Homo sapiens: one gene and its partners. The protein of the gene in region 7 purifies or fractionates together with the protein of the main gene of each other region. This does not show direct contact. Each region holds a gene or a part of one and is shown on either strand. Other genes may lie near its edges. The genes, in order: ATP9A, SLC30A5, RMND1, DNAJC11, TAPT1, SLC30A7 and RIC3.

Region 1 (3,500 bases), on a different chromosome or scaffold from region 7:
AGCAGCAAGGCAGGGCTGCACGGGCAAGGTTCTGGGGCTCGGCACCTCCCAGCACTGCCACTTTGCTATCACAAGTCCCCTTTTATCAGTTTCATAGATTGGACTTCAGATTAAGATTTCATGGGAACAAAAAGATTTTGTGGCCCAAAAAAGGTGACAGAGCAAGACTCCGACTCAAAAAGAAAAACAAAAACACTGTCTACTGCAATCACGCCCTCTGTCCTCAATTTCACACCCTGAGGCACAACTACCACCTGTCCCTAGAGAACACCTGTTAAGAAAACGTGGACAGCTGAGCGGGAAGGACTGCTGGAGGAAGAGCCCAGGCCGAGCGCTGGGAACCCCCCTTCCTTCATACGGCAGTGAGACCTCTGGGCCAGATTCACTGGGGGTGACGGACGGGGTTTAAGCATTCAGGGGTCTTACCGATGAACTCGTGTAAGAACACCAGGGAGGCGATGTAGCAGGCCAGGCTGAGCAGCTCCGCCACTGTCATGAGCCAGTGCCAGGTCTGGATGGTCAGCGCCACCATGAGCAGCTCGGTGAGGATCAGCGAGGTGAAGGAGATGGCCACGATGTGCACGAACTCCGACTCAAACAGCAGCAGCGCCCCGTACATGATGGTGCTCCCTGCAAACACCAGAGAAGGGTATTCCCCTCACCCTCCCTGCGAAAGCCGTGCGCTGCTCGCCTACACCTGGCTCCTTTCCGCAGTTTTCATTTAGACATGAAAGGCATCACTTGTTACATGAGGTTAATGACTGGTGCTTTATGCAGGTCTGAACCTATGGTTTTCTGATTTTCCTCTTTGACCTTGTAGGATAAATAATCTTTAACTACAAAGTGAGAAAAAGGGAGAAAAAAGGAAGTAAGGCAGGGAGGGGAGTATCTAGAGTTGATGAAAGAAATAGAAAGTTAAATATAATATTTAAAATGATGGAGTCGCGGCCAGGCGCGGGGGCTCAGGCCTGAAAACCCACAATTTGGGAGGCCAAGGTGGGTGGATTGCTTGAGCTCAGGAGTCTGAGACCAGCTTGGGCAACAAGGTGAAAGCCCGTCTCTACAAAAAATACAAAAATTAGCCAGGCATGGTGGCATGCACCTGTAGTCCCAGCTACTCAGGAGGCTGAGGTGGGAGGATCACTTGAGCCTGGGAGATGGAGGTTACAGTGAGCTGAGATTGTACCACTGCACTCCAGCCTGGGTGACAGAGTGAGCCCCTGTCTCAAAAAAATAAAAAATAAAATGATGTCGTGACTCACACCTGTAATCAGCACTTTGGGAGGCTGAGGCGGGCGGATCACTGGAGGCCAGGAGTTCAAGACCAGACTAGCCACCATGGCGAAACCCTGTCTCTACTAGAAATACAAAAATTAGCTGGACGTGGAAGCGCATGCCTGTAGTCCCAGCTACTCGGGAGGCTGAGGCACGAGAATTTCTTAAACCTGGGAGGTGGAAGTTGCAGTAAGCCGAGATCGTGCCACTGCACTCCAGCCTGGGTGATACAGCAAGACTCTGTTACAAAAAAAAAAAAAAGAATAAACCCCAATAGGAGACATGAACAGTAAATTTATTTTTTAAAAAAATAATAAACCCCAGCCAGTCGCGGTGGCTTACGCCTGTAATCCCAACACTTTGGGAGGCCAAGGTGGGCGGATCACAAGGTCAGGAGTTCGAGACCAGCCTGGCCAACATGGTGAAACCCCCGCCTCTACTAAAAATACTAAAATTAGGTGGGCGCCTGTAATCCCAGTTATTCGGGAGGCTGAGGCCGGAGAATCGCTTGAAACCATAAGGCGGAGGTTGCAGTGAGCCAAAATGGCGCCACTGCACTCCAGCCTGGACAAAAGAGCAAAACTCCATCTCAGAATAGTAATAATAATAATCCCCAAATACACATGTTTATTTGTAAGTTATATATGTGTACCTGTCCAGATATATAGAAATATTAGGATCATTTCACATGTATATTATATGTACTACAAAACATACATAAAAATGGAAATACTAAAAAAGAGTGAGGATTCCGGGCACAGTGGCTCATGCCTGTAATCCCAACACTTTGTGAGGCTGAGGCAAGAGAATTGCTTGAGTCCAGGAGTTTGAGATCAGCCTGCACAACATGGTGAGACCTCATCTCTACAAAAAATACAAAAATTAGCCGGGTGTGGTGGTGTACACCTGTAGTCTAAGATGCTGAACTAGAAACAGGTTTCTAGACAGGAATTAAAGCCTGTGTCAGCACCCGACAGGATCCACAGCACAGCATGAGGTCATCTTGCTGGACCTGCAGGGACTCGTGGCTCACAGTCCATTGGGAAGAAATGAACTGATTTGGAAACTGATTTGGTGGTGGTGTACACCTGTGGTCCCAGACTCAGAAGGCTGAGGTAGGGGGATCACCTGAGCCTGGGGAGGTCGAGGCTACGGCGAGCCGTGATTGCTCCACTGAACTCCAGCCTGGGCAACAGAGTGAGACCCTCCGCCACCCAGGGTCTCACTCTGTTTCTACATATTATATAAAATATATTTTATAAGTATATAAAATCTATTATGTGCACTACAAAACATACATAAAAATAGAAATACTAAAAAAGGATTCTGGGCATGGTGGCTTTGCCCTGTGTCTCAAAAATATATAAATAAATAAATATATATATGTAAATTTAAAAGAGTTAGGAAAAATAAATACAAACAGAAGTTTTGCTATTTTCTTCTTATATTCCAACAGGTCATCTTACAACGCCTCCACAGTCTGGGAAGACCCCCCTCTGGAGGCCACTGAGGTAAACATGTTTTTCCAAAACTACGACTTGACCTGACTCTCAGAAAAGGTTTCAGAACATCCCAGAAAGCATCTGCTTTTTGCCTCATGAGTGGAGCAGCCCCACAGGCTTTGATTACTGTCCACTGCCTTCCTCTGGCTTCACTACCTCATTTCTCACACAGCAGCACTGTGCATGTCTGATGTTCAAGTCCTTATACAGGGTGAGCAGGGTCTCCCCTGGGTCCCACTGCCACCCTCCTTCCTGCTATTTCAGATTCGTTTCTTCTCTTCTTGTTCTACAGGCAAGAAGGGGACACCCTGAGTCAGTACCAGAGCACAAGACAAACAGGTGTCTCCACTCATCCTTACCTTGATAGATGCTAATCAAAACCCATATTAAGAATGTCTTGTAGGACAACGGCCGTCCCTGAATGAGAGACAGAGAAAGGTTAGAGCCGGTTTCGCGGGGGGCTCACGCAGCATGCCATCAGCTTTCACGTTATTCTCCCGCTAACGAGATAAGGCAACCCATCTGTCTTCATCAATAAAGTGGCTCGCACACATCTGAACACATTGGAGGAATTATTTCTTTAAAAAAAGAATTGGCCAGGCATGGTGGCTCACACCTGTAATCCCAGCACTTTGGAAGGCTGAGGCAAGTGGATCACTTGAGGTCAGGAGTTTGAGACCAGCCTGGCCAACATGGTGAAACCTCCTCTTTACTAAAAATACA
Region 2 (3,500 bases), on a different chromosome or scaffold from region 7:
AACAAAAAAAAAGTAAATGTATATGTACTAGAAAAAAACAGAACACAAAAAACACCCTTAGAGATTTTAGTTGTTTCTTCCCTTCCTCTCTTTTTCTTTTTTTTTTTTTTTTTTTTTTTTGAGGCGGAGTCTCGCTATGTCGCCCAGGCTGGAGTGCAGTGGCGCGATCTCGGCTCACTGCAAGCTCCGCCTCCCGGATTCGCACCATTCTCCTGCCTCAGCCTCCCGAGTAGCTGGGACTACAGACGCCCACCACCGCGCCGGGCTAATTTTTTGTATTTTTAGTAGAGACGGGGTTTCACCGTGTTAGCCAGGATGGTCTCGATCTCCTGACCTCGTGATCCGCCCGCCTGGGCCTCCCAAAGTGTTGGGATTACAGGCGTGAGCCACTGCGCCCTGCTCTTTCTTCTCTTTTTCTTTCCTTCCCTTCCTTCATTCCTTCCTTTCTTCCCCTTCCCTTTCTTTTCTTTCTGACAAGTTCAGTTCCTCTGTTGCCCAGGATGGAGTGCAGTAAAATAATCATGGCTCACTGCAATCTCAAACTCCTGGGCTTAAGCAATCCTTCCACCTCAGCCTCCCCAGTATGTGAGATTGCAGATGTGCACCATCATGCCCAGTTCATTCTTTAATTTTTAGTAGAGATGAGGTCCCAGTATGTGAGATTGCAGATGTGCACCATCATGCCCAGTTCATTCTTTAATTTTTAGTAGAGATGAGGTCTTGCTATGTTGCCCAGGTTGATCTCGAACTTCTGGGCTCAAGCAGTCGTCCCACCTCAGCCTCCCAAAGTGCTGGGATTACAGGCATGAGCTACCATGCCTGGCCTGGATTCTTTGATTTTTAAAGTTCCAATTAATGAACTGTTGGGCTAAAGATGAAAAACCAGGCTAAGTAACCTATATTGATAAGCAGACATTCCTAGTTCATGTTATGAAGGAAAAACAATGGCGTCGATTTATCAGGACGTGGAGACGGGAGAGGAGAGGAGAGGGAGGCTAATTTTTAAAAACTTTTTGGAGAGACGGGGTCTCGCTGTATTGCCCAGGTTGGTCTTGAACTCCTGGACTCAAGTAATCATTCTGCCTAGGCTTCCCAGGCATGAGCCACCATGCCTGGCCCATCCCCCCACACCCCCAATTTATAAACCATTATTTCCCATTAACTAGTCTTGTCAAAGGTTATCACTGGACTTTTCTGTGAAGGTTTAGAAAATTCCCTGGTTCTCGCCAGGCGCGGTGGCTCATGCCTGTAATCCTAGCACTTTGTTTGGGAGGCCAAGGTGGGTGGATCACCTGAGGTCAGAAGTATGAGACCAGCCTGGCCAACCAGCATGGCAAAAACCCATCTACTAAAAATACAAAAATTAGCCTGACATGGTGGCAGGCACCTGTAATCCCAGCTACTCAGGAGGCTGAGGCAGGAGAATTGCTTGAACCCGGGGGTTCAATCAAAGAAAATTCCCTGGTTCTCTAAACATGGAATTACTGAAATCTGGATTTAGGTTCAAACCTGCCTCTTGGGCTTTGCCTACTGCAGTAGCTCAACAGTTCTCTGGCTAAAAAATAAAAATCAGTGTGTAATTCAAGTTCAATTCATTTAATAAATACTCAAGTATCTACTATGTAGAAGGCACTATACATGGGGTTTTAAACAACTCGGACTACCAGCTTATTTATTAGTTGTGTGACCTTGGGCAAATTACTTTTCTACGACTCAGTTTTGTGAAACAAGGATACCACTTCTTAGTTTGTAGGACTGTTGTAAGAATTAAATGAAATGATATATTCAAAGCACTTGGAACATAGCAGGTGCTCAACAAATGTTAACTGTGACCCTCTGCCCTTCCCCGCAAAGAGGACTTAAACCAAAATAAACCTTTGTTTAAAATAATCCATATTTGTGAATTTAGGCATAAAAATACCCACAATTAAAGGACTTGTCAACTAGTTTTTGTTGCAGATTATAACTAGTATTTGATTTTTGGTCTGTATAAAGTAAAACTCTTGCAACCTGGAATCCATCAAAATTCAACCAGTCCTGAGTTGCATTTGATTGATTCTGCAATAAACTACAATAGAAGGGTAACTCTGCTAAGTAAATAGTACAAATAAAATAGCAAAGGATTGTTTACCACATTTCCCTACCTGAGACAATACACTCTTGAATAAATAACACTTTTAAACTACTCATTTAAAAATAATTTCCTGTTTACCTAAAAGTCACAAGAGTAGTATATTCTTTACCTGGACTCCGTAATTGTTAATGTATCGTCCTGTGTAATTTATTATTCTCTCTGAATGCACACACACAGGTATTTTTTTCCCCTGGACTATTTGAGAATAAGTTACATAATTCATGCTTCTTTATCCTTAAATCCTTGTTTTTCCTAAAAACATGGACATTCTCTTATAAAGCCAGCAGAGTTGTCTACTTCAGGAAATTTAAGTGACCTCGCCAGAGGCTAAGACTCGTGACTCCTATAGTGGTTGAGGAGAGATAGTTGCCTGCCTGCTGGGTGGGAACCTGGGGATCTGATTACTTGGAAGACTTCCTAGAGATCCTCGTCTTTTCAGCTTCTCATTCCCCTCCTGAGGTGTTTCCAATTCCTGAGCCTTTTTAGGACTCTAGGTCCAGTCAATTGACCTTTCAACCACAACTCTCACTGTAGTCACTTAACAAGGCCAAGGAGGCGCAAACCAAAGGCATTTACCATTCTTCCGTTTCTTCCTATATTGTGGTCTTTTCATTTCATAACAGAATTTAGTTTTTATTTTGTTCTCCTTATTTGTTTGGAGGAGTTATTAAGTTAGAAAGCAGATAACAAAATAGTCCAGCAACTCGATCAACAAAATTTTCATTTTTCATTGGGCATCTTTTGTTAAAGTAAACTGTATCTATACATAATCATTCATATACATTGAAAAGAAACCAGAAGTATGTATACCAAAATGTTGTGGTTGGTTGGTTCGTTTTGAGACAGAGTCTCGCTCTGTTACCTAGGCTGAAGTGCAGTGGTGCAATTTCGACTCACTGCAACCTCTGCCTCCCGGGTTCAAGCGATTCTCTTGCCTCAGCCTCCCAGGTGGCTGGAATTACAGGCACCCGCCACCACGCCCAGCTAATTTTTGTATTTTAGTAGAGGTGAGTTTTCGCCATGTTGGCCAGGCTGGTCTTGAGTTCCAGACTTCAGGTGATCCACCCACTTCAGCCTCCCAAAGTGCTGGGATTACAGGCATGAGCGCCCAGCCTGTTTGTATTTTGAGACAGGGTCTCACTCTGTCGCCCAGGCTGGAGTGCAGTGACACGAACACAGCTCACTGCAACCTCAACCTCCCACCTTAGCCTCCCGAGTGGCTGAGACTGCTACCACGCACCATAATGCCTGGCTAATTCTTTGTATTTTTTGTAGAGATAGGCTTTTGCCACGTTGCGGAGGCTGGTCTCAAGCTACTGCACCTGGCCTCAAAATGTTAACAGTAGGGCGCGGTGGCTCACACCTG
Region 3 (3,500 bases), on a different chromosome or scaffold from region 7:
TCCAGCTACATGGGAGGCTGAGGCAGGAGAACAGCTTGAGCCCAGGAGTTCAGTTTGCAGTGAGTTGTGATCACACCACTGCACTCCATCCCGGGTAACATAGCAAGACCCTCTCTCTTACCAAAAAAAAAAAAGTTTTCATAAAGCACTATGTAAATATTAAATACAATAGAAACAATGATTTTTAATTCAAGATAAATAAAAAGTTATAATTTTCCTTTTTAAAGGCACCGTATAAACTTGAGTTCAGACTTCCTGATTACTCCTGATTTCTACTGGGACAGAGAAAACCTGGAAGGACTTTACGATAAAACGTGTCAATTCCTTAGCATTGGCCGAAGAGTTAAGGTACGTATTTTGCACTTCTAATGAGAGAAAAAGACACGTTGTCGCCTATAAGTTGAATATGTTTAACTGCTTGCAGAGAAATATCTTGTTTGACTTCCATTCAAATCTCTTTATATTTCCCCTTCTTGTCCTCTGTACAGTCACTTCAATTTTTTGTGTCAAAGGATCTTCTGATATTAGCTCTACAGACTAGATAAGGTTGGTGAATAAGATGAGAGTTTGGAAGCCTAATGGTCCATCAGTAAGTTCTTGTCAAGTTTCAAGCAAGAGTTCATGACTGCTTCTGATCTGTCATGGTGACAGTGAGAATAGAAATAAATTTAAGAAAGAATCATGTAAGACAAATCAAGTGATGGGTAATAAGAGGCCATGGAGAAGAAAGAATAAAGGATGACTGATGTTTGCCTGGAGGTGACAAGTAGAAAGGTGGAAAAACAATAATGAGAGGTCAGAGAGGGGAGGTGACAGACTAAATCTAAGATATGCTGAGATTAGAGTAGCAACAAGATATCCAATTAGCTCCGTCATGCAGGCATTTAGAAGGGCAGAAGCAAAGTCGGGAAAAGAGACGTGTATTAAGAAATCCCAGCACTTTGGGAGGCTGAGGCGGATGGATCACCTGAGGTTGGGAGTTTGAGACCAGCCTGGCCAACATGGCGAAACCCTGTCTCTACTAAAAATACAAAAATTAGCCAGGCATGGTGGCATTCTCCTATAGTCCGAGCTACTCGAGAGGCTGAGGCAGGAGAATCACTTGAACCCAGGAGGTGGAGGTTGCAGTGAGCCAAGGTCGAGCCAGTGCACTCCAGCCTGGATGACAGAGTGAGACTCCGTCTCAAAAAAAAAAAAAAAAAAAAAGCTGTAGTGATGGAGGTAGACCACATGGGGAAAGAGCATAGAAAACAGAAAATTGACATTAGTACAATGTGTGCACATAGTTCTGTGACATTTTGCCACATCTATAGATCCATGCAACCACATGATCAAGACACAAAACTGTGCCAGGTGCGGTGGCTCATGCCTGTAACCCCAGCACTTTGTGAGGCTAGAGGTGGGCAGATCACTTGAGGTCAAGAGTTCGAGACCTGCCTGGCCAATATGGTAAAACGCTGTCTCTACTAAAAATACAAAAATTAGCTGGGTGTGGTGGCGCGTGCCTGTAGTCCCAGCTACTCGGGAGGCTGAGGCAGCAGAATCGCTTGAACCCAGGAAGTGGAGGTTGCAGTGAGCTGAGGTCATGCCATTGCACTCCAGCCTGGGCGTTGCAGCGAGACTCCATCTCAAAAAAAACAAAACAAAAAGACACAAAACTGTTTTATCACTTTTCCTCATGCTACCCTGTATAGTCACACTGCCCTCCCCCTACCCGGACTGTCCCTAACCCCTGGCAGTGAGTAATCTCTTCTCCATCTCCATAATTTTGTCATTTTGAGGATGTTATATAGATAGTCATACAGTATGTGACTTTTTTTTTTTTTTTTTTTTTGAGACGGAGTCTTGCTCTGTTGCCCAGGCTGGAGTGCAGTGGCTCAATCTTGGCTCATTGCAAGCTCTGCCTCCCGGGTTCACGCCATTCTCCTGCCTCAGCCTCCTGAGTAGGTGGGACTACAGGCACCCGCCACCAAGCCCAGCTAATTTTTTTTTGTATTTTTAGTAGAGATGGGGTTTCACTGTGTTTAGCCAGGATGGTCTCGATCTGTATGTGACTTTTTAACTGGCTTTTTTCACAGAGCATAATGCCCTCAACTTGGATCCATCCAAATTGTTGCTTGTATCAAAGTTCCTGTCTTCCTGTGGTTACTGAAACAATTTTTTGGTATTTCATTTTGATGTTACTTTTTAATATATCTCGTTGCATAGATATTTAGTAGTTGCTCTGGTTATTACATCTTACGTATATAACTTATTACAATCTACTGATTTCAACATCTTGCAGATTAAATGAAGTATAGAATCTTTATTTCCCTAATGGATGATTGGATGCAGAAAAAAAAAAAGAATTCTTATTTCTTTTATATTCCTTTACCCTTCCGTATTTATAATTTTCTTAACTATTCTTCTGCAGACATAGAAAACTTCATCAGATAATGTTATAATTTTTGCTTCAACCATCAAACATAATTTAGAAAACTAAGAAAAGCAAAGTCTGTTGTATGTGCCCATGTTTTTATTCTTTCTGTTCTTTTCTCCTTCTGATCTTCTAAGATTTCTTTTACTGTTTTTTTTTTTCAAGAACTTTATTTAGCCATTCTTTTAAGGTAAGTCTAGTGAGACAAATTCTCTTAGTTTGTCTTCATCTGAGAGTGTATTAATTTTCTCTTCATTCTTGCAGGATATTTTCCTAGAAATAGGATTCTAGGTAGACAGTTTTCTTTCTTTCAGCACCTGAAAAATGCCATGCCACTTCCTTCTGACCTCCATGGTTTCTGACGGAAATCTGCCATAATTCTATGACATCTACATTTTATCTTTTATTATCATTTCACAAGGTCTTTGAGGCTCTGTTCACTTCTTTTCCAGTATATTTTGTCTCTGTTAAGATTGGGTAATGTCCTTTGTTTCATCTTCTAGTTGATTGATTCCTTCCTCTGTTACATTCGTTCTGCTGCCCAACATTGAGTTTATTTCATTTATTATATTTTTCAGTTCTAAAATTTCCATGTTTTTTTATTTGTATCTTCTGTTTCTTTGCAGAGACTTCCTGCTTTTTCGTTTGTTTCAAATGTGTTCAGAATTGCTTGTTGAATCATTTTTATGATGGTTGCTCTAACATCATCTAATAATACCTAACCTCAGATACCTCTTGATATTAGTGTCTACTGATTGTCTTTTCTGATTCCCTCCAACTAATTTTAATACCTCCAGTTTCCCTCATTGCCTCAAGTGTTCTGGCTTGATATACAAGGTCCTTCCTATTGTTTCTGTTTTTCAATCATATTTCCTACCAATCCCCACATTCACCTTGTATCACATCAAAAATAAGTGATTAGCCTGGGAAACACAATGAGACCTCATTTCTACTAACCTTTTTTTTAAAAAAATTAGCCAGGTATAATGGCATGTGCCTGTAGTCTCAGCTACCCTGGGAGGTTGAGGCAGGAGGATTGCTTTAGCCCAGGAGTTTGAGGCTGCAGTGAGCCATGATCACGCCA
Region 4 (3,500 bases), on a different chromosome or scaffold from region 7:
CCCACCTCAGCCTCCCAAGTAGCTGGGACTACAGGCAAGCGCCACCATGCCTGGTTAATTTTTATATTTTTAGTAGAGGGGGTTTCGCCATGTTGGCCAGGCTGGTCTCGAACTCCTGTACATGTTTGTACATGTTTGTACAGCCTACAATACATGTTTGATAAGAAAGTTATTCATGCCACTGTGCCTGGGCACAGTGGCTCACACCTGTAATGCCAGCACTTTGGGAGGCCAAGGTGGGAGGATCACCTGAGGTCAGGAGTTAAGAGACCAGCCTGGCCAACAAGGAGAAACCCCAACTCTACAAAAATTAGTCAGGCATGGTGGTGCACACCTGTAGTCCCAGCTACTCAGGAGGGTCACCTGAGCCTGGGAGGTTGAGGGTGCAGTGAGCCAAGATTGCATCACTATTCTCCAGCCGGGGTGACAAAGTGAGACCTGTCTCAAAACAAAAAACATATACTCCAGGCTTGCTGAAGTGGCTCATGCTTCTAATCTCAGTGCTTTGGGAGGCCAAGGTGGGAGGACTGCTTGAATCCAGGAGCTTGAGACCAGCCTAGGCAACATAGAGATAACTTATCCCTAAAAAAAACTAAACAATGAGCCAGGCATGTTGGCACACGCCTGTAGTCCTAGTTTTTCGGGAGGCTGAGGGAGGAGGACTGCTTGACCCCAGGAGTTCAAGGCTGCAGTGGACTATGATCGGACTATTGCACTCTAGCCTAGGCAACAGAACAAAACCTCGTCTCTAACAAAAATAAAGTAAAATAAAATAGGCCAGGCGTGGTGGCTCACGCCTGTAATCTCACCACTTTGGGAGGCCGAGGCAGGTGGATCACCTGAGGTCAGGAGTTCGAGACCAGCCTGACCAACATGGTGAAACCCCATCTCTATTAAAAATACAAAAATAGCTGGGTGTGGTGGCACACGCCTGTAGTCCCAGCTACTCGGAAGGTTGAGACAGGAGAATAGCTTGAACCCAGGAGGCAGAGGCTGCAGTGAGCCGAGATCACACCACCGCACTCCAGGCTGGGCAAGACAGAGCAAGACCCTGTCTCCAAAATAAATAAATAAATAAAATAAACTCCATGTGCTCCATTCTAGGACTCCTTCAGCTATATCTTCCTCTGGAAGAAAGAGGTATTATTTACCCTCCACCAATTCTTTTATCTGAGCTCACACAGACATCACTGCACCCACCATATAGGAAATGAAGACACTGCTGTCGTTCTAGAAGGGACAGGGATATACAGTTCTAGGAGTGTGACATGGCAGCAGCAGAGACGACAGGAAGCAGAGGCTGGCTGGGGACTACATCTCTGGCATATGTCAATCAACCCGATGATGAGGCAGTCTGTCATTCTCTGGGACAATGGAACGATCCATAAGTCTGTAAGTGTTTCGGTCCACTGACCAACTCTCCCTGAAGGCACTCTTTCTCCGTGGCCTTGTGGCATAGGTAAGGGAGGTGCGAGACCTGGATGGTGCAGCCTGGCCAGGGCTGGGACAAGGGTCCGGCCCCCTCAATCCTGCCTCTTCCCACCTGCACACTGCCTGGGCTTCACGCCAGTGCTATACCTGCCCTTGATGTACGCAGTGACCTTGTAGGACAGACAAGATAGTGCCAACCACTGTGATAAAAAGAACACACAGTTCTAGTCTCCTAAGCCAACAAAGACCACCAAAGAGGAGCTGCTGTCTCTCATATTTACCATCTTGGTGTGAGATTACGGAACAGCTTGAGACCGAACAAAGGCCCCTGTAGGTCTCCAGCTCCAAATTCCAACTGTTTGAAAAGGAAAAAGAGAAGGCATTAATGGTGTTTTATCTCATAGCAGCAACCCAGGCTCAGGTATGTACCTCTAGGTATAATTCCTTCATTCAATTCACTGGTCTTGCCAGGGCTCTAAAAGAAGGGGGTGGAAGATTGTTAATGTCTCATCTTAACCTTTGCCAAATGGAGCTGTCTGCTGCCACAGATCCAAAGGAGACCCAGGCTTCAAAGGCACATGTTTCATTGGTGTCCCTCCAAAGAAAAAACTGCTCCCCTCTGTTCCTTGCCTCCCAGGCTGAGGTCAGGAGACCAGCTGGCTCCCCCTACCCCTCCCGGCGCAGCCCCCCGCCACCTGCAGAGCACCGACTGCGGTCCGGTGTGCCCCCCACCCCCGCATGCACTGCCGACTCCTTTTCATTTTCATCCTGCGCCAAATGTCTCCCAGGTCACTGGGGCGGTCCTCAGGAGCCTGATGTTAAAGCCCAGCCGCGGTTCCACACCCGCACAGCCTTGGAAGTCACAGCTGAGCCTGGCTGCCGTGTTTACTAGTCTGGGTGACTTTCAAGCAACTCTTCAATGTTAATTTGATGCAGCTCAATTTGCTCGGCAGAACTGGCTGTTAAATGGCCACCAATCAGTGAACCATCACGCGGAAGAGAGCACCTGCCTTCTGAATTGTGCAGGAAAAAGAGCCCACAGGCTTTTTGCTCAAAGGGAACAAACACACGGAGTTTCAGAGGCTGGATTTCTAGAAGTTGGCATCTCATAGGAAACCTTGTTTTTCTATGCCAATTTTAAACTGTGAGGAAGACTGACAGGACTTCTCAGATATGAGACCTATTTATTTATTTATTTTTGAGACGGAATTTTGCTCTTGTCCCCCAGACTGGAGTGCAACGGCGCGATCTTGACTCGCTGCAACCTCTGCCTCCTGGGTTCATGTGATTCTCGTGATTCTCCTGCCTCAGCCTCCCAAGTAGCTGGGATTACAGGCAGGTGCCACCATGCCCAGCTAAGTTTTGTATTTTTAGTAGAGACGGGGTTTCACCATGTTGGCCAGGCTCATGAGACCTATTTTTCTTTTAGGACCAGTCAACTTATGGAAGCTTGACACTTGGTACCGTTCTTACACAACAACGGGGCCCCCAGGGTGAGTTTGAGGGTGAGCTTTGAGAGTGTAAATGTTCAGAAATAAGGCTTTGCACAGACAACACAACTCAGCCAATAGACATTCTTACCTCTCCCCATCCCTTTGCCGAAGTTACTCGTCTGAGCGCAAAGTTAATGGAACCTCCTCCATTTCCATTCTGGGTTGAGAGGCTTCCAGAGAGGATGGCTGTGTCTGTCGCTGTCAAGGGTGCCTAAAAATGGTATTTGCTGGTAATGAATGAATCAAAACAACAGGAAGTGCCAATGGCAGCAGCCTAAAGAACGCACTGTGAGCCCAAGGCCAAAGGTGCAGACGATTCCTCTGTTCAGAAGCACACATGGATGCAGAACTGCCGCAACAGCTTCACTTTTCTTCCGCTTTGTTATTTGGTCTGCATGTGACCACGAGGGTAATATGCTTTGCAAAAGCTTTAATGGGCACATTTCACAACACCAGGGGAAACATGGGGCTGCATGTCCCAATGGTATCAGATAGCACAGTGACTTCACTGTGTGCCTTCCCTCTGTGGTTTGCCATCAGGGTTCCAGGGGGACTGAAGACCTTCCCATGGCTGTA
Region 5 (3,500 bases), on a different chromosome or scaffold from region 7:
TGTCCAAAAATCAAATACAATTAATTTAAATTCGATGGTAGTTTTGCTTTGTTAGAGTTTACAAAAGTTACTTTGGCTCATTTCAGATAGTGTTTTAAATTTCTCAAGGCCATTTATTTTCAGATAATTCTGTAATGAAGCAAGTCTATATTATACATGTTTGGGAAGTATCAAAAATAAATACATTTCATTGTTAAATTCATTTATGGAAATTAGAAAGGACTTAGCACACATATAGGTACAGCTTGGTGAATAATTCTACAGAATTCCAATTAAAGATACATTGGTAAATTTAACCCCATGAATTAAGATCCACAGTTAGCTGTAGTAACAAAGAATATATTTTGTGTCAGACTTTGATGGAACTTATTCTAGGGCAGACTTTTCTTAGTTTCCTTTAACCTGTATCCTCTTTTGAAGTCACAGAATAAATTAAACATGTGATCTAGACAAATCAAAACAGGTGCACCTGAAAATCCACATGGCCTTGCTCCGGAGGTGCCCTGCCTCCTAAAGAGGCATCTCAGTGCTTGGTACCTTGAGACTCACTGTGCCCTGAGCTCACACTCATAATAAATAGTGCTTCAGCTTTGGAAATAGGAAGTGAGTAGTGCCCACTGGGCTTTGAGGGAGTGAAGGCACAGCTCAGACCCATCACTAATAAGGAGGTGAGCTACCCTGAAAAAGAAGGTACCAGCAACTGACTGGAAGAGCTTAAGGATGTAGGGAAGGTACAGAGAATAAAGGCCAACTCGCTTACAGAGAATAAGGTTTTGCTGTGGAATAAAAGTTTGTATCATGTTGCTAGAGAATAATGGGGAAAGGTGGAAGTAAAAAAAGAGAAGCAAAGACAGTCCCATGAAGTACATCAGGATGAAATTGAAATTCAGAGCGCTTACAGGAGGTGCGCCATGGCTGAATGATATGGGTGAGGCTTGCATTTACTGAGGCAGTGGGAAAGTAGGGAAATGACAGCAGACTGTAAAAAAGCTTTTGAGATGGGTTGTTATATGAGTGATTGTTTCTAGTCACAGCCCCCACTATTGCATCGGCACACATACATGGGTGTGCCACTCTTAACTGCAGACAAATTTATTTTGTCCCATTTCTTGGTTACACGGTATCTTAGACTATGAGAAAGTTAACAGCTTAAAAAGTGAAATGTGTACACTGGCCTTTAGCAAGAATTCAGTGATTTGCTTTTATTAAATTCCTTCCACCTAATCTCAGCACACAGTTATTAGTTTATGGTAAATATTATGAAGCCCAATTTGGGGTTATTTTACCTCAAGTTCTACATACACCCCCGGAAATGCTATTGTAGTAGCAGGATTCTCTCAGCTAAAGGACTCATCAGTTCAGTAATTGTGTACTATTTACCAGATTGGAAATAGTCTGGGATTTTATACAAGGATTTTGTTACCCAAAGTCTTTCATTTTACTCTTTGCTTCTATTTTTTCTTCCGTAAAATGGAAACAGTTGTCATATGTCCCCAAAGCCCATTGGAGGAACCTAATGACCTCATCTGAGCAGTTTGATGGTTTGAATACTTTTTGAAGTTTATAGAAAACTGGAATTTCCATACTAGAATTATGTTGGCAAAAGAAGTCAATGGCTTACCATGGTAGCACCAGCCTATATATACACACACACACACACACACACACATATATATATATATAAAGTTGTATATTTATAGACATTTATACATCGTCTAATAATTTCATCATGTTCTGGCTAAAATAATTATATATGTACTTTATTATGTTGTTTATATACACTACAGTACTTATGTTGATTTTTTTTCTTTTAGATATTAAGGAACGATTCACAAATTATGTGCTTTTACTGATAGTGTGTCTAAGAAACATGGAACAGTTTTCTTGGAATCCAGGTAACTCACTCTTAACAAAACAGTGTCTTATAATTTTACTTCTAAGCCAAAATCATTCTTTTACATGGAATAAAATGAATATTGCAGAAAACTCCAAAAGACTTTGGCTGTTTTACTGTTTGGGTATTGGTGAAACAATCATCTGTCACTTAATGACCTTCAGTCAACAATAGACCACATATACGATGGTGGTCCCATAAGATTCTAATGGACCTGAAAAATTCCTGTCACCTGGTCTCCTAGTGTCCTTTTCTGTGTTTAGACATGTTTAGATACACTTACCATTGTGTCACAGTTTGCCTGCAGTATTCAGTATGGTAACGTGCTGTACAGGTTTTGTAGCCTAGGAGCAATAGGTTATACCATATAGTCTGGGTGTGTGGTTATACCATCTAGGTTTGTGTAAGTACCCTCTATGATGTTAACACAGTGACAAAATTGGCTAGCAACACATTTCTCAGAATGTATCCCTGTTGCTGAGCGACACATGACTGTACCTGTTTCAGTAGAATGGATTGGGTATGTTTTCTGTGGTGTAGTGGGATGCTGTCATTTTCCATAAACTCCTCAGTGTCTCTGGAGCTGTACACTCAGTAGGTGAGTGCGCCCTGTTATGCCTGGCAGCTCTGAGCCTTTCGGTTTTTAACTGTAGTGTACTTTAGTTACCTAAATCCAGAAAGATTGTTTTCATCTTAGGGGTTAACCAGGAGAACCTTTGCTCTTCCCTAACATTATCTTTTACCCATTGATTAGCATTTTAAATAGGGATAAATTAAATATAAAGTAAGGTGGAAATTTTGCTACTTAGGTGCGTCTCTGAATTCAGGCTGACAGGAAATTGTCAAGACTCCATGAATTTTCATTATCCATTCAGTTAGCAGACATTCACTGAGCATATGCTAGTTTCTAGGCACAAGGACAGGCACTGTGGCAATGTAAAAAATACTACGACATTTGTAGGACTTAACAGGCTAATTAAGGGGAAGTGGGTAATTATAATGCTAAGTGAGCTAAGTGGGAAATGATCAATTTCTCAGGTATCTCAAGTAATTTAGAGTTTTTGTTTGAATGTCTGACGTTTTTGTTGGAATCTCATTCTTAAAGGATGCAACCATGTTTTGGATTTCATTTATTACTCCCAGTATTATATATGTTATAGGCATTTATTAACTTCTTAATTTATTTTAATTCATTGGTAATTTTCAAGTAACTGTGAAAAATCAAAAACATATAAAATGAGAGATACGGTCTTGGAGATACATTTTCAGAAGTTTTTTTCATAGAGAAACCATAAGATTAAATGACATCTCACAGCAGCTCGAGCAGGCTACCTGGCTTGTGGTGGAAAAGCCTCTTCCTCCACACACACAGCTAGATTCTTTGTGTACCCAAATTTGTTTTAGTGAATGGTGGTATATTTCTTTATAACTAAGTCACCTAACAGGGTGTCCATGAAGGGCAGAGGGGGTATGTGTCACTGGTTCCGGTAGAGTACATGTAAGATCAGCAATTCCCAAAGCTGAGTGGTTAAACCAAAAGACAAATAGTCTTTATGCCTCCTAGACAGCTGGATATTTGAAGTCATATTCTCATTTATACTGTGAC
Region 6 (3,084 bases), on a different chromosome or scaffold from region 7:
AAAACTGCTATTTCTAACTCTTCATGAAAGCATTACCTTTGGAAAGTTAAACTTTTTTTTTCCTTTCATCACCGTCTTTGAAACAAATTATTTTCCAATTCATAAGAACTTTGGTAAAAAAAAAAATAAAAGGAAATTATATGTTTTTCTTTGGACATTCATTGGAAGGCTTGTTGAAGACATGATCCCCCAGAAGCCTTAGTGACCCAGATCTCAACCAGAGACTCAAGATAGCCTCAAATACAGTGAAAGATTATGTATCCAAAAAAAAAAAAAAAAAAAAAAGAAAAGGAGCAGGGAAGGACAGTTCTAGTTAAAGCCAAATGGATGTGAGTCTGACAAGGGTGTCTTTGATTTATATTTCCTAACTGCAAATTACACAGAAAGTGAGAATGGGGAATAACTTTTATTAAGTATTTATGTGCCAGGCGGTTAGTGTGGCCTTCATGTTATTACATTTAATCCTCAAATTTCTACAAAGGAATAATTTTGCATGATTTTATGATTGACGGAGCATTTTCAAATCTCCTCTAATTCTCATAACATCTCTGTGAGGAAGGAATTTTTATCCTTATTTTACAGATGAGGAAGCTGTTTGGAGATAATTTAAGTGACTTGCCTGGGGAATCTAGCCAGTAGTAGAGTACTGATTAATCAGGTGCTGACATCTGCTCTGCTTTGTGTATGTAATTCAGCAGTGCTTCAAAGATCCAAGAAGCTGTAGCAGATCTCAATACACTCTCCTATAAAATTAGTGAATAATCACCATGACAAAATTGGTATGGCGGAACAGTCATTATACATTATTTAGACTCATTCCTTCTTCCAGTGCCCTTATGATTATTTCCTACCTTTACCATTGATCTTAAACTGTGCAGGCTAAAAAGAGGAACCAGAACTCCCTTAAGCACTTTTAAGACTATTTAAAAAATAAAGTTTTGTTGGCATTGAAGAGTAAGCTGCTTAAGGGACTGAATGAAAAGATAGTACCCTTTGTGGCTGTATGAAGAGAGAAACTGAATTTCTATCCAAGAGACCTTAATTTAGTTTATTAGGGAATTATCTTCCCCAAAAGTACAAGTAATTTTGCACTGCAGGAGAAGGATAAGTAGATTTGATTTACATCACATTTTATACACACCTTTCAAAAGGAAGAAATCTGTTTCATAAATAGTAGTAATCTATGCTTAAACTTAACATTTAATGTTGACTTCTTACAACAGCCTTGAAAATTATTTGTAATTTTGATCATGATGTTGGAAAGCTTGTAATAAAGAATATCTTTCTCTTCTGCATCCTTTTATCCTCAAACTTAGCATGGATTCACATGCTGAGTAAATGTTTGGTTAACTAGTGAACATTTTAGATAGTTGTGTCAAAAATAAGGGTTAGGGATAGGTAAAACCAGTAATTTACTGTTTTTTACAGAAGACATCTCAGCATTTCTTTGGCATTTTTGCACAAATAAATGACTATATATTCACCTTGGCCATTTTTTTTTTTAAGTAGCCCTATGAGCTGCTCATTCTTTTTCATATACAGTGGAAGTATACAGATGTTATCCATTTTACAAATTGTTGGATCGGAATTTGACAGAATTGGGACTGTGGAACCTGGGTCACTTGAATTTTCTATATTTTGTATGGCCAAATCAGGAACCAGACAGTCTCCATAGTCTCCTTTGTTTTTATGGAAAATTGCCATATTCACATATTTCATTTATCCTAATGTATTGTCATCCAAAATGAAAGAGGTCTTTCTTGAAGGTGCTTTAAAGACATCACTACATGTATTCAATTACTGATTTAAATATTCCCAGAATTATTTTTTACCTTTCTCTTTTTCCTCTCAAACACAAAATTTTAGTAGTACCTCCCTCTATTTCTTCACTGATTTTTCATCTGTTTTCATTGTTATTTCCACTATAGAACTTCTACTTTATACTAGCGGGGAAAATTTTTTTATTTAGAATTTTAATATTTGAATTTTGTTTATGTATCACATACTGTGCTACAGTTAGCCTCAATGAAGATTCTATTTTGAACTAGACATCCTGTCAATAGTTTGTCAAGTAACTTCATTGCTTCCTTTGATAGCAATTCAGTGAAATTTTTTCCCAAGTGATATTTTCCCCCAACTTTTGTGAGTTTGATAAATAGGATGAGTCTTTTATATTGGAAATACTGTGAATGGAAAATTGCCAAATCCCTTCTTAGTATATTTTAAGCACCCTACAACACTTTACCTCCCTGCCTTTAGTGGTATTTAAACATATGGCCAAGTTAGTATTTGGGTTTGATTCCTTTGGTGAAGATTAAGGCATCAAAACATTTCTTAAAATGTTTGAGTACAAGGCTAAGTTATAATGTCAACTTTCAAAGACTATGTTGTGATTCGGTTTGAATATGCTGAAGTGAGCAATTATGATTTGCCCAAGTGCAATACAACAAATCTATAATGTATATTTCACATTTTCTACTTGAACACATTCATGTATATATTTTGTTAAACTTCATATGTATTTAAAAAGAATCATGAACTGTATCAAAATTCTTTCAATAAAATTTCTATTTAAAAATCTCTACCTGAATTGTGTCTTATCAGTTTGACGAACTGAAACAAACACTGTGAATCTTACAGGTATTGGAATAGATACTAGAGGACTTAAGGAATGAAAGGCAAAGAATGATTCTCAGAGCCAAGAAACAGCAGAACTTACTAGGAGAGAAGAGATGCTAGGAGGTTGGAAGTATCTTTACATTGTGAACAGCCTCATTGTGGCTCTTAGTCAGCATCTGACCTCATAAACATGTCTCGAAGTATTTACTTCCAGATATTTCCATCACTCCCAAGTTGTTCTCTCATCTCAGTTTCTATGGATGACTTTGTCTTATATGACGTGAAGACCAAAACATCTGATGTGAGCCTCCATTATCCTTCCAAATTTTTCCCTCTGATTAGATGCAATTCTTTTTTAAAATAACTTCTTCCACAGTATCCCATGCACCACTCATGTCACCTTCCTTCTCAAAGGTATTCTTACCAAAGCAGCTTCTTTACTATCATCAATCTCTGCCATACTTC
Region 7 (3,500 bases):
GATTGGGTTTTATTCTAAAGGCAGATGAGGCATCATTGAGTGTGTAAGGAGAAGAGAAACATTTAACCTGGTTTTAGAAAGGACACCCTGGCAGCAGTGTAGACACTGCGTTGTGAGGATTTCTTCAGGGAGAAGATTGTTGTAGTCATCCAGTTGAGACATCATGAGCATCACCAAGTCATTGTCATTGGGTTCACCAGTTAGGGTGCTTGTGACAAGTGACAGAAAAGTCAGCTTGACTAAGACAGGGAATTTATTGACTTGTGTAAATGAAAAGACCCTGTGTTAGAAATGTCTTGCAGTATGGTTTGAACCAGAGACTCACAGTTGTCACACTGGGGCTCTAGCTCTTATTTTCTGTGTCCTTTTCACTCTGGGTTCGTTCTCAAGTTGGTTCTGTGCTCTGGCTGCCCTCTCAGGGTGGTAGCAATGGTTGCAACAGTTTCGGACATTACCTCCTCACATTCCATTGCCCGGAGAAAGTGAGTGTCTCATTTATAGCAACAGTTTCGGACATTACCTCCTCACATTCCATTGCCCGGAGAAAGTGAGTGTCTCATTTATAGCAACAGTTTCGGACATTACCTCCTCACATTCCATTGCCCGGAGAAAGTGAGTGTCTCATTTATAGCAACAGTTTCGGACATTACCTCCTCACATTCCATTGCCCGGAGAAAGTGGGAGTGTCTCATTTATATACGTGTGTGTGTAGAGCTGGCCTGGAACTCCTGGCCTCAAGTCATTGTCCCACCTCAGCCTCCTAACGTGCTGGGATTACAGCACTTTGCTGGGCACAGCTCCAGGCCTCTTTTCTTTTAAGTCCTCCATCACTCTCACCTTCCAGCCTCACTCCCAAGATTCTTTCCCAGAAGTTCCAGCAAACATATCCGTTCACGTTAATGGCTTGAATTAAGTTAACTTGTGGTGCTGTGGGTAGAAAGAATATACTGATGAATCCACTCTGGAGTTGAGAGGAGTTCCCAAAGGAAAATATGGATATTAGAGCAAGAGAGGTTATCAATGGATAGATTGGAGGGAAGAGAATAATTTTAAGAGACATTTTAAAATAGAATGGGAAAGTGAGGGAGAGGGAGACATCTGGATTATTCTCAGGTTTAGGTGAAGGGATAGATGTTGATTTCCTTTGCCAAAATAGGAATGGAGGAAAAGTAGATTAAAGGTGTGTGAAAAGAAAATAAAAACTTGGGACCCCAGTTCACTATGCCAAAAGGAAAAAATTAAGCTGAAAGCTGAGTCGTGCAAGAAACTGCCTTTCCTTTTGTTCCTAAGCAGGTAGCTACAGATAAAAAATTAAATATCTCTACAGGTAGCTACTCTATGTTCACCGTATCTTACGTGAAGTGCCGATTTACTGAGCACCAGATGAATACATAATTGACTATTCCTCTACCTGCTCCTTTTCTCTTGCAACATATAGATTACCATACCCTTCTTTCCCCTCCAGCTCACTTTTCCCCTTGAAATATTGAAGCCCTCAAAATCATCTTTGGAGAAAGGCACAGACCTCTCTCCTGGGCGTGTCCTTAACGTTGGCAAAATAAACTTCTAAATTGATTGAGGCCTGTCCCAGATACTTTTTGGTTTACAGGTGTAAGATGATTAATCCAGGAATTGGAAAAGTAGTATTATGTCCCTTTCTTCAGTCTTCTTTCCTGTGTTAACATCCCTAGCTCCCTCATCCGTTCCTGGTATGACCTAGGTGCAAGTGTTTGAACACAGCCCTCTCAGAAGAGGCTCTTAGAACTGCAAATAACAGCATATCTAAGACAGTTCATGAAAGAGCAATCTGTTGTTTCCCTGCACTCTTCTTCTTCTATACTTAATGCTTTCTGGGGATTGCTCTAGTTTTTAGCATTTTCCTTGCTGACTTTGCTGTATATTAGAATTCTGAGCCTTTTTTTCTTCTTTTTAATAGGAGCTGCTCATCTAGGTTTTGTTCATTTTCTACTGTTCACTTGATGTTTCGGAATGAAATGTAGGAATTTGTAGTTTTCCTTGTTGCATTTTATTTGTTTAAATTTGGCCAAGAATTCTAGCTCTTGAAATTTTTTCAGAGCATTCAATGTTTCATTCAATGTATCTGCTTACCATTTCTTAGCTGTGTGCCATTCTTGATTTTTAAAAAACTTTTTGTTAAAGACATTTTCAAACATAAGCAAAAGTTGAGAGAGTAGTAAAATGAATCCATATCATCCTGCTTCAGCAGCCATCAATACATGGTCAGTCTTGTGTCATGGGTATCCCCACCCACTTTTCCCCCCATTCACTGGATTATTTTGAAGCAAATCCTAGACATTGGATCATTTTTCATCCTTAAATGCTTCAGTATGCATCTCTAAAAACAGATTCTTATTAAAATGTAGCCACAATACCATTGTCACACCTAAAAAGTCAATACTTCCTTGATGTCATTAAATATCTAGTTGGTGTTCAAATTTTTCCCACCATGTTATAATTTTTCTTTTTTTCTTTCTTTTTTTACAATTTTACCTTTGATTATGATCAGCATGTTTTCTCTTTTTGTTTGTTTTTTCTCAGGCTGGAGTGTAGTGGCAGGATCTGAGTTCACTGCAACCTCTGCCTCCCAAGTTCAAGCAATTGTCCTGCCTCATCCTCCTGAGAAGCTGGGATTACAGGCATCCACCACCACGCCTGGCTAATTTTTTTTGTATTTTTAGTAGAGACGGAGTTTCACCATGTTGGCCAGGCTGGTATCGAACCCTTGACCTCAGATGATCTGCCTGCCTTGGCCTCCCAGAGTGCTGGAGTTACAGACATGAGCCACCATGCCCAGCCTCAGCATGTTTTCTTGATAGGTCAAATTATTTTTTTAAATGTCTTAGTCATTTAAAACTGCTTTTAGAGTCCCACCACTGTATTCATGGAAACGTTTTGTTTAGGGTCATTCAACCAGTTGGTTATTTGGTTGCTCTATTCCATCTTACTCTGTCACCCTGGTTTGCCTCCTTCCTCCTTCCCCACTTCAGTCTATTCTCAATATAGCTGCCAGATAGTATTATGTTGAAGCTTAAGTCAACTCACATCTCTCCCCTCCTCAAAACTCTACAGTGGCTTCCTGGCTTAGATGAAAAGATAGTCTATACATGACCCAAAAGGCCCTATGTAATTCTCTTCCCCATTTGCTTCTACTTTTCTATCTGTCTCACTTTGTTGTGGCCACACTGGCTTCCTCCTCACTGTTCCTTGAATATGCCAAGCATGTTCCCACTTCAGTGCCTTTGCATTTGCTGTTTCCCTTGTTTGAAATGCTCTTCTTTTGGATATCCATGTGCCTTTCCCTTCGTCTTCATGTTTTCTCTCAAACTGCATTTCCTGATGCCTTCTCTGGCCATTCCAGCTAAAATCTTAACTTCCAACACGGTCCTACCCCTTCTCCCTGTCTTATTTTTTCTCCTTAGTATTTATCATTATCTTGTTTATTGTCTCTTTTCCTACTTAGAAAGGAGGCTCTGTGGCCG

What was found.
Region 1: the proteins of RIC3 (region 7) and ATP9A purify together in Homo sapiens (affinity purification with mass spectrometry; 4 studies listed by BioGRID and IntAct, with this or other methods). This does not show direct contact.
Region 2: the proteins of RIC3 (region 7) and SLC30A5 purify together in Homo sapiens (affinity purification with mass spectrometry; 3 studies listed by BioGRID and IntAct, with this or other methods). This does not show direct contact.
Region 3: the proteins of RIC3 (region 7) and RMND1 purify together in Homo sapiens (affinity purification with mass spectrometry; 4 studies listed by BioGRID and IntAct, with this or other methods). This does not show direct contact.
Region 4: the proteins of RIC3 (region 7) and DNAJC11 purify together in Homo sapiens (affinity purification with mass spectrometry; 4 studies listed by BioGRID and IntAct, with this or other methods). This does not show direct contact.
Region 5: the proteins of RIC3 (region 7) and TAPT1 purify together in Homo sapiens (affinity purification with mass spectrometry; 3 studies listed by BioGRID and IntAct, with this or other methods). This does not show direct contact.
Region 6: the proteins of RIC3 (region 7) and SLC30A7 purify together in Homo sapiens (affinity purification with mass spectrometry; 2 studies listed by BioGRID and IntAct, with this or other methods). This does not show direct contact.

Annotation. Positions count from the first base shown.
Region 1 is NC_000020.11:51,604,391-51,607,890, forward strand, and holds part of ATP9A (probable phospholipid-transporting ATPase IIA), read right to left. Parts: intron 3,195-3,500; coding exon 3,137-3,194; intron 631-3,136; coding exon 427-630; intron 1-426. UniProt on the Homo sapiens protein: Plays a role in regulating membrane trafficking of cargo proteins, namely endosome to plasma membrane recycling, probably acting through RAB5 and RAB11 activation. Also involved in endosome to trans-Golgi network retrograde transport.
Region 2 is NC_000005.10:69,097,014-69,100,513, forward strand, and holds part of SLC30A5 (proton-coupled zinc antiporter SLC30A5), read left to right. Parts: intron 1-3,500. UniProt on the Homo sapiens protein: Together with SLC30A6 forms a functional proton-coupled zinc ion antiporter mediating zinc entry into the lumen of organelles along the secretory pathway.
Region 3 is NC_000006.12:151,414,127-151,417,626, reverse strand, and holds part of RMND1 (required for meiotic nuclear division protein 1 homolog), read left to right. Parts: intron 1-227; coding exon 228-348; intron 349-355; exon of another isoform or gene 356-546; intron 547-2,078; exon of another isoform or gene 2,079-2,209; intron 2,210-3,500. UniProt on the Homo sapiens protein: Required for mitochondrial translation, possibly by coordinating the assembly or maintenance of the mitochondrial ribosome.
Region 4 is NC_000001.11:6,649,817-6,653,316, forward strand, and holds part of DNAJC11 (dnaJ homolog subfamily C member 11), read right to left. Parts: intron 3,136-3,500; coding exon 3,013-3,135; intron 1,787-3,012; coding exon 1,713-1,786; intron 1-1,712.
Region 5 is NC_000004.12:16,177,972-16,181,471, reverse strand, and holds part of TAPT1 (transmembrane anterior posterior transformation protein 1 homolog), read left to right. Parts: intron 1-1,814; coding exon 1,815-1,895; intron 1,896-1,902; exon of another isoform or gene 1,903-2,492; intron 2,493-3,500. UniProt on the Homo sapiens protein: Plays a role in primary cilia formation. May act as a downstream effector of HOXC8 possibly by transducing or transmitting extracellular information required for axial skeletal patterning during development. May be involved in cartilage and bone development.
Region 6 is NC_000001.11:100,979,174-100,982,257, forward strand, and holds the end of SLC30A7 (zinc transporter 7), read left to right. Parts: 3' UTR 1-2,584; downstream 2,585-3,084. UniProt on the Homo sapiens protein: Zinc ion transporter mediating zinc entry from the cytosol into the lumen of organelles along the secretory pathway.
Region 7 is NC_000011.10:8,159,026-8,162,525, reverse strand, and holds part of RIC3 (protein RIC-3 isoform a precursor), read left to right. Parts: intron 1-3,500. UniProt on the Homo sapiens protein: Molecular chaperone which facilitates proper subunit assembly and surface trafficking of alpha-7 (CHRNA7) and alpha-8 (CHRNA8) nicotinic acetylcholine receptors.